Regions from separate parts of the Homo sapiens genome. Here region 1 is linked to region 2. A link means that fine-mapping ties the variant in region 2 to the expression of a gene that starts in the linked region. Tissue or cell type: whole blood. Region 2 holds a variant in brackets; the other region holds the start of a gene. All regions are shown on one strand. Distances are from middle to middle.

Region 1 (5,388 bases), 250 kb before region 2:
TGCCAAGCCCTTACATTACTGCTAGCAGATCTCAGACAGCTTTCTCTTTGACATAAAGGGACTTGTCCCAGCAAGATTAGCTCTGTGTCCTCCAAATGGAGCCAGACTGTGTTGACTGCATGGCCAACTCTGATAGGATGACCCAAGGAGGCTCCCACTGAGCAGAGAAGATATGGAACTCTAGATCCTATGCATTTACAGACAGGGTCTTGTCTTCTTTAGAGAAGACTGCTTTAACCCTCATTGTCAAAGACTCTGGGTGGCTACAGCAATTTTCATTTGTTTCATTTGAAATACTCTGGCTCATTCAAAAAGGCACAGGGACGTGGCTAGATAACTGCACTAATTGTTATCTAGCCTTTGTATGCACTTAACCGTGCTTCTGCATGTATGACAGGCAGTATAGCCATGATAGCCAAGGAGTACACTGGGCCTTCAGAAGACACATCTTCCATTTACAATTTAAAAGAAGAGGTGCCAATATTAGATTGTCATGCAACCAAACATACATTGTCTAAGATATAAAAGCAATTGTATCTGAAAGTGGGAAATCTCCACCTCAATTATCACATTGACAATAGGGGCATTTCTTCAGAGGCCAAATATCTGGTTGCTCAGAAGAGAGAGAAAGCTGCCTATGATACGTGCAGGAGATTTTATTTTTTTTTAAGTATAATTATGACATCACTGACCAGTGCCTATAATGTAAGACCTGGTTCAAAATCTGTTTAGAGAAATTCAATATAACAAAAGTGTGTTAAAAATTTATCAGCTACATGTATGAGTCCAGTTGCCATTCTAAATGCTGGTGTGGTTATGTAGTAAAGTTAAATTGGTATAAGCAACAATATTATTCCCTGGAAGGGACATTTCCTGGGTGGAACATAGAAAAGGAGACAGGTAATATGTTTGAACAATTAAAAACAAAAAACCCAGGAAGCTGGGCAGATGAGTGTATTGTGGTGGGAAGGGCAAGTTGTGACCTTAGATTTCTGTATCTTTAGTTGTTTCACTTTCTATACCATTTAATGATTGAAAAATGCGGTTGGACTGCCGGAACCACAGAACAGGAACTCCACTGGGGCAGGAGTTAAAGGCAAAAAAGCTTTTGTGTGGGTTCACTTACTATTTTAATTCATTTGTATTCTTAGTCAGCTTTAAAGGTATGATTGCTTCGTCTGCCTACTGCTCTTTCTCTTCTTCCTTTCATGCTGTTTTACCCTTACCTCTCTCTGTTCTCTGCTAGGGGATGTAACCTTCGGCACGGTGGGAAAAGCCAATTTTGCCATAGGCCTCAGCTTGCTCTGACTCGGCTACTAACTTGACTCATAGCTTCAGGCAGGTTATTTCATGGTTCTGATGCTCATTTTCCTCATCTTGAATCAGAGATTTTATTAACTGTCTCCTGGTTTGTGAAAATTCAATATGATCACGTGTTACATGCCAATCACAGAAACTGGTGCGAAGTTGTGTTCCTCAGTGGTAGCTATTGTTGTAAGTCGGAATTGCATGACAGTGGCAGCTGTTTTCTATCACGTCCTCATGTTTTCTAAATTTTTATGCCCCTTCCTCCCATTTCCTACCTTAGTATTGTTAATAGCTAACTTTTATTAAGTGGTTACCATGGCCCAGGACACTGTAATGAGGATTTTATGTGAATTACCTAATTAATTTCTCAGAAAGTATGAGATAGCTATTATTTTAAGCTATTTAAGCTATTTTAAGCTATTTAAACAACCAGTTTGTTGAAGTTAAAATTTAGAGAGGTTAAGTGAACTCGTCCATTTACACAATTAGTTGCCCAGGCAGAATTTGATTTGAGGTCTGACTCCAAAGCCGGAGCTCTTAATCACCAGTGACACCAACTAAACGCTTCATTTCAGAGCTCGCCTATTCCCAGAGGTCCCATTCCCGTTTTAAGGTTATTTTCTGTAACTCTCTTGTATCTAATTTAAAAATGCTATTTCCCAGAGATGAGTCCCTGATCTCCCAGAAGGCATGGATCATACATTTCTTTTCCTAATCCACCCAAATTCCTAGAGCGCACAGACTTAGGCTCGTTCATAGACGGGAAAAGAAACTGACCAGGCAGTGAAACCGAGCAAACAAAGTGCAATAAGACAATTACAGCAGGAAAGCGGCGTAAAAAAAAGTAGAAAAAGAAAGTAAGGGAAAGGGGAAATAAATAGCAAATATTCGCTGAGTGCCAACAATCGCACGGGAGGGTCTTTAGGGTTCTCTGCCGAGTACTCGGGACGGCTTGCTGAGCAGTACGCCGGCCTTATCTCATAGATGAGGCACCAAGGCTCAGGAAACAGTTCTGTGGATCTGGGCGGGCATCTTCCACCCACAGTCGCGCACACGTGGCATAGGTTAATAGGCTGTCTGGCTCGGGTACCTCTTCCCAGGGTCAGGGCGTTACAAAGGGAGGCTGCTGTCTTCCCATGAATCTATTAGGGACCTACAGGAGCGAAGAGAACCCTTCTGAGTATCAGCGAAGACAGCTTATTAAGACTTTACGAGTTTGCAAGCCATCCTCGTCCTATTTCCTCACTTCGGACTTTTTGGACACACCTTCCTTTTCCTGTGAGCCAACCCAAACGAATGAGTTACAAGTAATCGCCTTCTCTACGCCCAGCCAGTGCCCAGCACCAAGCATAGCGCCTCCTTGCAACACCCGGCCGAGCTCCCGGCGGCAGCGCGGGCGCTTGGGTCGGAGGCTGCTCAAAGGTGACGCGCGGCCGCCTCCTCCCCTTTAGGCGGGGCTCGCAAGGGCGGTGGGGGGGCCCGAGGAAGTCCGGGGGCCCTCGGTGATGCCCCCGCCCCCGCCGCGTCAGGGTTGCTCCCTGCGCTTCCGAGTGGCGACTGCAGCGGGTCCGGTGCAGGTGAGGGGCGCGCGCCTGCCCAGCTTTGCAGCCCCCGAACGCGGCCTCGCACAGGTGAGGGCGGTGCCGGGTTCACCTGGCAGCGCGCGTGGGCCGGGCAGCACGGTCGCCGCCTGGGGGTGGGCGTCTTCTCTCAACCGAAGCTGGGAGTTGGGGAGCTGGAGGGTCCAGGATGAGAATTCAGTGGCGCTACTACCCCGGAGCTGCTTGTGGTTCAGAGATCAGAAAGGTGTCCTGAGGACTGGAGGCAGAAATCCAGGCGTGGCGTACTGGAAGGCGCACTAGGGGAGGGCAGCCTGGCCCAGAATTTCTTTGCATTTTAAAGGCCACACATTCAGTCTCCCCGGGGCGCTACGGAGGTAGTCACCGCCACATCCAGGACTCCTTCCACAGAGGTCAGTTCCTCAGCTGGGTGGGCTTTAATACGCTCTCTTCGTAGAGACCCGGAGGTTCAACTTTAATTCTTTGCGCTGACATTTGCTCAACGACACCGGAGCAGAAATCCTTGGGATAATTGCGTAGGTAACAAACAGTGTCTCAATCCCACTGAAGATAAGTAAGTTAAAAATAAAGACAGTGATGTTGGTGGTGAACTTGAGTGGCGATTAGTTTCCGCAATTAGTTCCCTCCTGCACTGTCCATTTGTTAAGCAAATGTGCTGACGGCTTTTTTTAAATGATTGGGTTGCCATAAAAGAGGTTTTCTCTAGTCTGAATGAACTTCTGTGCGATGCTGACTGAGGGTTTCAGCCTCCTCTAGATGCTTACAAGAGCTTGGTCTGGAAGGTACAAGGGTGCGAACCCTTAAGGTACCAAGCAGCTTCTCAGTGAACCGTGAGACGTTAGAACACTTGCTTCAGGACGCACAGAATTCAGACACCACTTATTGAAGGATTTGTATGGATTATAATTTACATTAGCATTCATTTTTTGCTTGAGTCAGTAGCATTTCAATTCAACAAATATTTATTGTACACCTGTTAACGGGCAGACCTCTGAGAGCCGGGCTGGTGTGCTGTTGGGTAGCACAGGTGTTGATATTAATACAAAGGGGAATCTTAAGGCACTTATTCCTCACAGGTGGGTGTTTAGAACGAGACCAATGGTGCTGCGCTTTGCCTCAGCAGCACCTGTGTAATCGCTGGTTATAAGTATTTAAATGCAGGGAGAATGTAAATCTTTGAAGAGTCTCTGTCATTAGCCTGATCAGTCATTCCAAAGCAATAAAAATTGTCAAAACCATGCTTAAAATAAGATTATTAAGAATTAGCTCTGTGCCAAGCACCATGCTAGGCACTTTGTCTTGTCTATGAAATCTACAAAGTAGATACTATTCCCCTGTGCAGATAAGGAACTGAGGCAGAGAGGAGTCCAGTAATTTGTACAAGGTCAGTGGTGAATTTAGAAATTGCATGTGGCTATTTCTGAGTGCAGAACTCGTACTTTTTCACTATTCCATGCTGTCTCTAAGATGGAGAGTGTAAATCCGGCAGATTTAATATAAGAATTCAAATTTATATTCATAGATCCTATCTCCTGGGGATTAATGGAGTTAAAGTAGTCCTCAGGAATGAAGTGAGCACTGTTTTCATTGCACTTGTGTGGTCAAGCTGTGACCTATCTGTGACTAGTAGATGTAGCTTTAAAAGATAAAATTTATTATGTGTCTTAACATATTTTGAAAGGCCTTTCAAAATATGTTAAAAGATAAAATTTATTATGTCTCTTAACATATTTTGAAAGGCCTGATATATCCAAACAGGGCCAATTAATAAAATTGCATATATATTCTCTCTGTGTTATACATGGAAGGAACAGCTAATTTCCTATTATTGGTGTGCTTTACTATGGTCTCCTCCTGCAGAGGTGAGTTTCTCAGCTGAGTGGGCTTTGAAATCAATTTCAGCTTGATTTCTTACAGCTGCAAGATGATTAGCGGTCTCTTGTCACCTGGAAAGGACTTTGTGTTTGTGTAAACCTGTGCTCACACACGAATATATATTTTTCCTTAAACCTATTTCCAGAAGTACTACTTCTGGAAATTGTAGAGTACTGCAATGTGATGATCTGGCGAGGAATCAAGTTCCTTATTTGACTTTTGCATAAAGGATTTATAACAACTGACAATTTCTTTAAGTGCATGTAAACCAGGAAAGTAATTTTCAAATTAAAATTATTATACTGTGGAGAATGGAAAGTGAGTGAAAAATAGTACTCTGAATTCAAATAATATTTCTTGTTGTGGAAAACACTTGCTTTCTTAAAACTTTTCTTGTAATTGTTGGTAATTACACACAGAAATGGAAGGGGTTTTATATTTAAATTACCTTGAATTGTTGCCAGTTAACTGTTGAGAAAAGGCTTTGCCCGTGAAGCGAGGATCAGGTAGAATATTTTGCCTGCGTCAATCTTGGCACAGATTTTTTTTTTCCCTCTATCTTCACGTGGAGGTGAAACAGCCAGACACCTTAAACTCCTCTTTAGGAGCTGAGCTGTTAAGTCCT
Region 2 (5,388 bases):
GACTTAACAATTGCTGGACTATGGGATGAGGGAGCGTAGAGTCAAGGATGGCTCTCAGTCCCTAGGTCTCCAGGTCTAGGAAGATGGTGTTACCTTTCACTAAGGGAGAGAACTGTAAGAACTGCTGTGAGAGGACCACAGGAGTCCAGTTTTAGCGCTGAATCTCAGGTGACTGAAAAGCATCCAAATAGGAATGTCAGCAAGGTAATGGAATATATAGTTCTCAGAGAAGTAACACACTGTACTTGAGATGTACACAAGTTAAAGGCAAACATTGTATATGAAAAGTGATCAAAACTACATGCTTCAAGAAATTAAACCTTGAAGAACTCAACAGTTAATGTCATATATAGAAAGGCAAGTCAGTTAAGAGTGTAAATAGAAACGGGTAAATACAGAGGAGAAAAACAGTAAGCATGGACTGTCCTAGAATTCAGTGGCAGAGCATACTGCAAGAAAGCTGATGTGGTCAATAATATCAAATGCCGCTGAGATCACATAAGTACAGAATCATGACCTTAATGGTTTGACAGTTTGGAAGCACCCTGGCAACAAGCCATTTCAGTGGAATGGTAGAAATGGAAACCACGCTGGGTTGAGAAGTGAGTGGATGTGAAAATATGGGGCCTCTGAATGGAGGTAACCCTTGAAAAATTCCACTGTGGAGAAGAAAGGAGAGAGAGAGGGCTGGAATTTGGAATGAAAGGAGATATTTGGGATTATTTTAGTAAGAAAACAGAGGTGTCATGACCTCAGTGTAACCCTATTAGCTGCAAAAAATTCTTCATGGGCTTGAGATGGAGTTAGCCATATTCATTATTGAAAACTATGTTCTGCACTTATACATTGTTGGTTGGAGTGTAAATTAGTTCAACCGCTGTGGAAGACAGGGTGGGTGTTTCCTCAAAAACCTAAAGACAGAAATACCATTTGACCCAGCAATCCCATAACTGGGTATGTACCCAAAGGAATATAAATTGTTCTACTATAAAAACACATGCACACACATGTTCACTGCAACACTATTTACAATAGCAAAGACACTGGATCAGTCTAAATGCCCATCATTGATAGAATGGATAAAGAAAATGTGGTAGAGGTACACCATGGAATACTATGCAGCCATAAAAAAGAATGAGATCATGTCCTTTTGCAGGAACTTGGATACAGCTGGAGGCCATTATCCTTAGCAAACTAATGCAGCAACAGAAAACCAAATACCACATGTTCTCATTTATAGGTAGGAGTTAAATGATGAGAACACATGGACATGTAGAAGGGAACAAAATACACTGGGGGCTATTGGAGGGTGAAGGGTGAAAGGAGGAAGAGGATCAGGAAAAATAATGAGTACCAGGCTTAATACATGGGCGATGAAATAATCTGTATGACAAGCCTCTCTGACACAGTTTACCTATGTAACAAACCTGCACAGTTACCCCTGAACTTTAAAAAAAACTATGTTCTATCAAAACCTGCCTCTCATTTATGTATTAGGAATCTTGTGACAACGGAACAGTTGAAAAATTAAAATAAAAATTGCCTGAAAATGCATTGAGTAGTAACTGATAATTGAATAAATGCTGAAATCCTGAAGGGTGACTTCTAAAGGAATGGCTTCAAGCATGTTACCTCTGTGTAAAGCCCACAGCTGTTCTGTCCTAGCATTTATGTAATGATTTACACAGGAAAATGGATATTCAAGCACACAAGAATACTAATATTTTATGGCATTTATCAAATGCCAGTTACTTTCTAAGTGTTTTAGATATAATTGCTCATTCAAAATAATTCTAAAAACTGAAATTTCTCCAAATACTTATAGGAAAAAAAAAAAACCTGTCGCTCTTATACAAACTCTTCTAGACAATAACAAAAGAAAAAAAACCACTTTCTTAAGCATTTTATGAGGCCAACATAACTCTCCTTCAAAACCAACTAAGTTCTACCAGAATGGAAAACTACTTAAGAAAATCCCTTATGAAGATACAAAATTGTGAAAGATATACAGAAGTCTTTACACTGAAAACATCAGTGAGGCTTCCAGATACTTGACCAGACAATAATGAGTAGATAATCACAGTTCACATATATAAGAGAGAATGCTGGAATTCTACAGATAAGTGACAGGAAACACCTAAAGCAAGGAAGGGAAAGAAAGCAATACAGTCTGTTCAGGTGGGATAGGCTAGGAGCCAGGAAAGGCTTCCCAGTATGAGAAAAGAGTAAGTGGGTGACTCCTAGTGATCAACGTTCCCACTACAGACTCCCACATTCCAGCCATAGGAATGCCCCTAGACTATTGTGAGCCCCCAGACCAACATAGGGAGCTACCTGAAGACCGTGTGACGATACTGCCCCAGAGAGGGAGCACACATAATCCCACACACCCCCAAGTCCTAAGCAGCTACAGCAAGTTGTCACTTGGATATCTCAGCCCTCACCAGACTGCATTCTGTCCTGGGCCCTACAGCCCCTGCATCTTCATATCCCTGGAACCCCAATGACATGCTTCACCTGCAGCCACAACTCCAGCTGCCTGCTACCTGTAGGGCTTAAGTGTGAGCTGTTGGCAGCTACCACACTGCTCCCAACTGTGAAGCTGCTGTGCAGCTTTTAATCACCCTAAGGACAACAAATCCACCAGGTGACAGCCATAGCAGTGGGCTGCCTCAACTGGGGCCAAAGGCAAGTGAAATGTACACTTCCCAGGCACTTGTGTGCCACTGCTGCCATTGAAAGTGACTCTATTCTCCCCTGTACCAGGGGTGCAGTACAGCTGCTGCCACCCCAACATGAACATTCTGGGGCCTGGGGTCACACCGCCCCTGCCTTCCATAGTCAGTGTCTGCAAGCACTACTGAAGGATGTGAGGATGAGTCCACTGGACCTAGCTCTGACCCCCACCCCCTAGTATCAAATCATGGCATCTGGAGGCCTGGGGAGTACTCAGCCCAGTCCACCAATATTGGCACCTGAGCACTCCAACAAGGGCCCTGAAGTTGGGGCCACCCAACCTGCCACTACCATCACA[A/G]TGAGCACACACACACACACACACACACATACACGTGTCACCTGTGGGCCTGGGGACTGGCCTGCCCAGCCTGTCACAACCACTGCCAACACCACTGTGGAGCTCTTGGGACTCAGAGGTTAGTCCTACCACTACTACTGCTTCACCCATGCCATGCCAACTGCCCAAGTGCCCAAGGACACACTTACCACCAGCCCACGACTGCCACTATCATCACCCAAACAAGCTGCCTGGAGGCCCAAGAATTGGCTGGCTTGGGTCTGCTAGCACAGTGCCAGCATACACTGTCCTAGGGCCCAAGGACAGGCCCATCTGGTGTCCTTTTCACAAGCAAAAGTTCACCACAGCCTTCCCTAATAACCACAACCTAGGCCACTGACGAAAATCACAGACACCAGTGAAGCTATTTAGAGCCAAAGAAATCATGAGAGCTACACTACTGCATACACCCAGAATCAAAGCCAAAGTACCATACCCAACAAACACCACAGACACATCTTCAGGAAAAAGCCCTGCCCTAGGAAAGCAAGTTAAAAAATGGAAAGAAGTGATTGTCATGACAGATGTTCAGATATCAGTGTAAGGACACAAGAAACATGAAAAAAAAAAAAAAAAAAAAAAAGCAAAGATAGTACTTCCAAAGGGACATAAAATCCCAGCAACAGATTAACCAAAAGAAGAAATCTATGAAATCCTGGATAAAGAATTCAAAATACCAATATTAAGAAGCTCAGTTAGATCCAAGAGAATACAGAAAAACAATACAAATAAATCAGAAAAACAAGTTAGTATATGAATGAGAAATTTTCTAGAGATAGATGTCATAAAGAACAAAACAAATTCTGGAACTGAATGATTTATTAAGTAAAATACAAAATACTTTCAATAGCTCAACAATAGACTAGATCAAGAAGAATTTCAAAACTTGAAGACACGTCTTTTAAAATAACACAGACAAAAATAAAAAAAAATTGAGCAAAGCCTACGTGACATATGAGATACCTTATAGTGATCAAATTTTTTGGTGTTCCACAAGACAAAGGGAAAATAAAAAAGTTAGAAAACCTATTTATTGAAATAATAGCTGAAAACACCCTAAGTCTAGGAAGAGATTTAGACATTCAGATACAGAACGTTTAGAGATTCCAAAACACAATGCAAAAAGGTCTTCTCCTCAGCACATTATAATCAAATTGTAGTAAGTGGAAGATCAAGAGAGTACTCTTAAAAACAGCAAGAGAAAAGCATCAAGTGCCTCATAAGGGAACCCTCATCAAACTAACATTGAATTTCTCCTCAGAAATTTAACAGTCCAGGAGAGAATGAGATGATATATTCAAAGTGCTGAAAATAATAATAATCATCATCATCGTCATCATCATCTTTCCAAGCTAAGCAAAAGCTGAGAGAAATCATCACCCTAGACTGGCCTGGCAAGAAATGCTTAAGGGAGTCCTACCTGGGAGGAAAGAGACACCATCTACAATCATGAAAACACATGAAAGTACAGAACTAAATGGTAGCACAAACACAAAAATAAAGAAGAGAAAGGACACAAATATTACCACTACAGACAACTATCAACCCACAATAATAAACATTAATGGAGAAAGAAAGGAACAAATGATATACCAAACAACCAGTAATCAATTAATAAATAACAGGAATAAGCCCTCACATATCAGTAATATCTTTGAATGTAAATAGATTAAACTTTACACTTACAGGATATAGACTGGCAGAATGTATTTTTAAAATGACCAATTATATGCTGCCTATAAGAAATAAGAAGCCTGCAGAAAAGAAACTTACTACAGAGGAAAAGAAGCCTGCTGCATAAACTCTTAAATTTGATTATTCCATAAAGGTCAAATCATCATGGACAGCTTCTTTTGAATAAAGACCTGATTATACAGGCAAAAAAAAAAAAAAAGAAATCTATCTCAACTGTAAAGACACATACAGACTGAAAGTAAAGGGATAGAAAAAGACATTGCATTCCATGTAAACAGAAACCAGAACCAAAGGAGTGCCTATACTTATATTAGATAAAACAGACTTTAAATCCAAATTTATTAAAGGAGACAAAGAAGGTCATTACATAAAGATCAAGGAATCAATTCAGCAAAAGGAAATAACAATTCTAACTAATTATATATACCCAACACCGGAGCACCCAGATATATAAAGTAAATATTATTAGATCTAAAGGGAGAGATACATTCCAATACAAAAATAGTTCAGGATTTTAACACCACACTTACAGCTTTAGACAGATCATCTAGACAGGAAACTAACAAAGAAACAGTGAATTTAAACCGCATGTTTGAACAAACACACCTAACAGACATTTA

Evidence for each region.
Region 1: it holds the start of MCTP2, and the variant in region 2 is fine-mapped to the expression of MCTP2 in whole blood (TOPMed, PIP 0.96).

Annotation. Positions count from the first base shown.
Region 1 is chr15:94,228,726-94,234,113 of GRCh38, forward strand. It overlaps MCTP2 (multiple C2 and transmembrane domain containing 2), which reads left to right and starts at 2,836. Exons shown (of 23, transcript NM_001385001.1): 1 at 2,836-2,939. RefSeq lists an enhancer at 1,091-1,230 and a silencer at 2,766-2,895.
Region 2 is chr15:94,482,399-94,487,786 of GRCh38, forward strand. MCTP2 (multiple C2 and transmembrane domain containing 2) reads left to right here. Exons shown (of 23, transcript NM_001385001.1): 23 at 1-1,554. Among named protein-coding and RNA genes, the nearest start is that of LINC02852, 100 kb to the right of the region's middle. The variant A/G (reference allele first, on the strand shown) is at 3,035.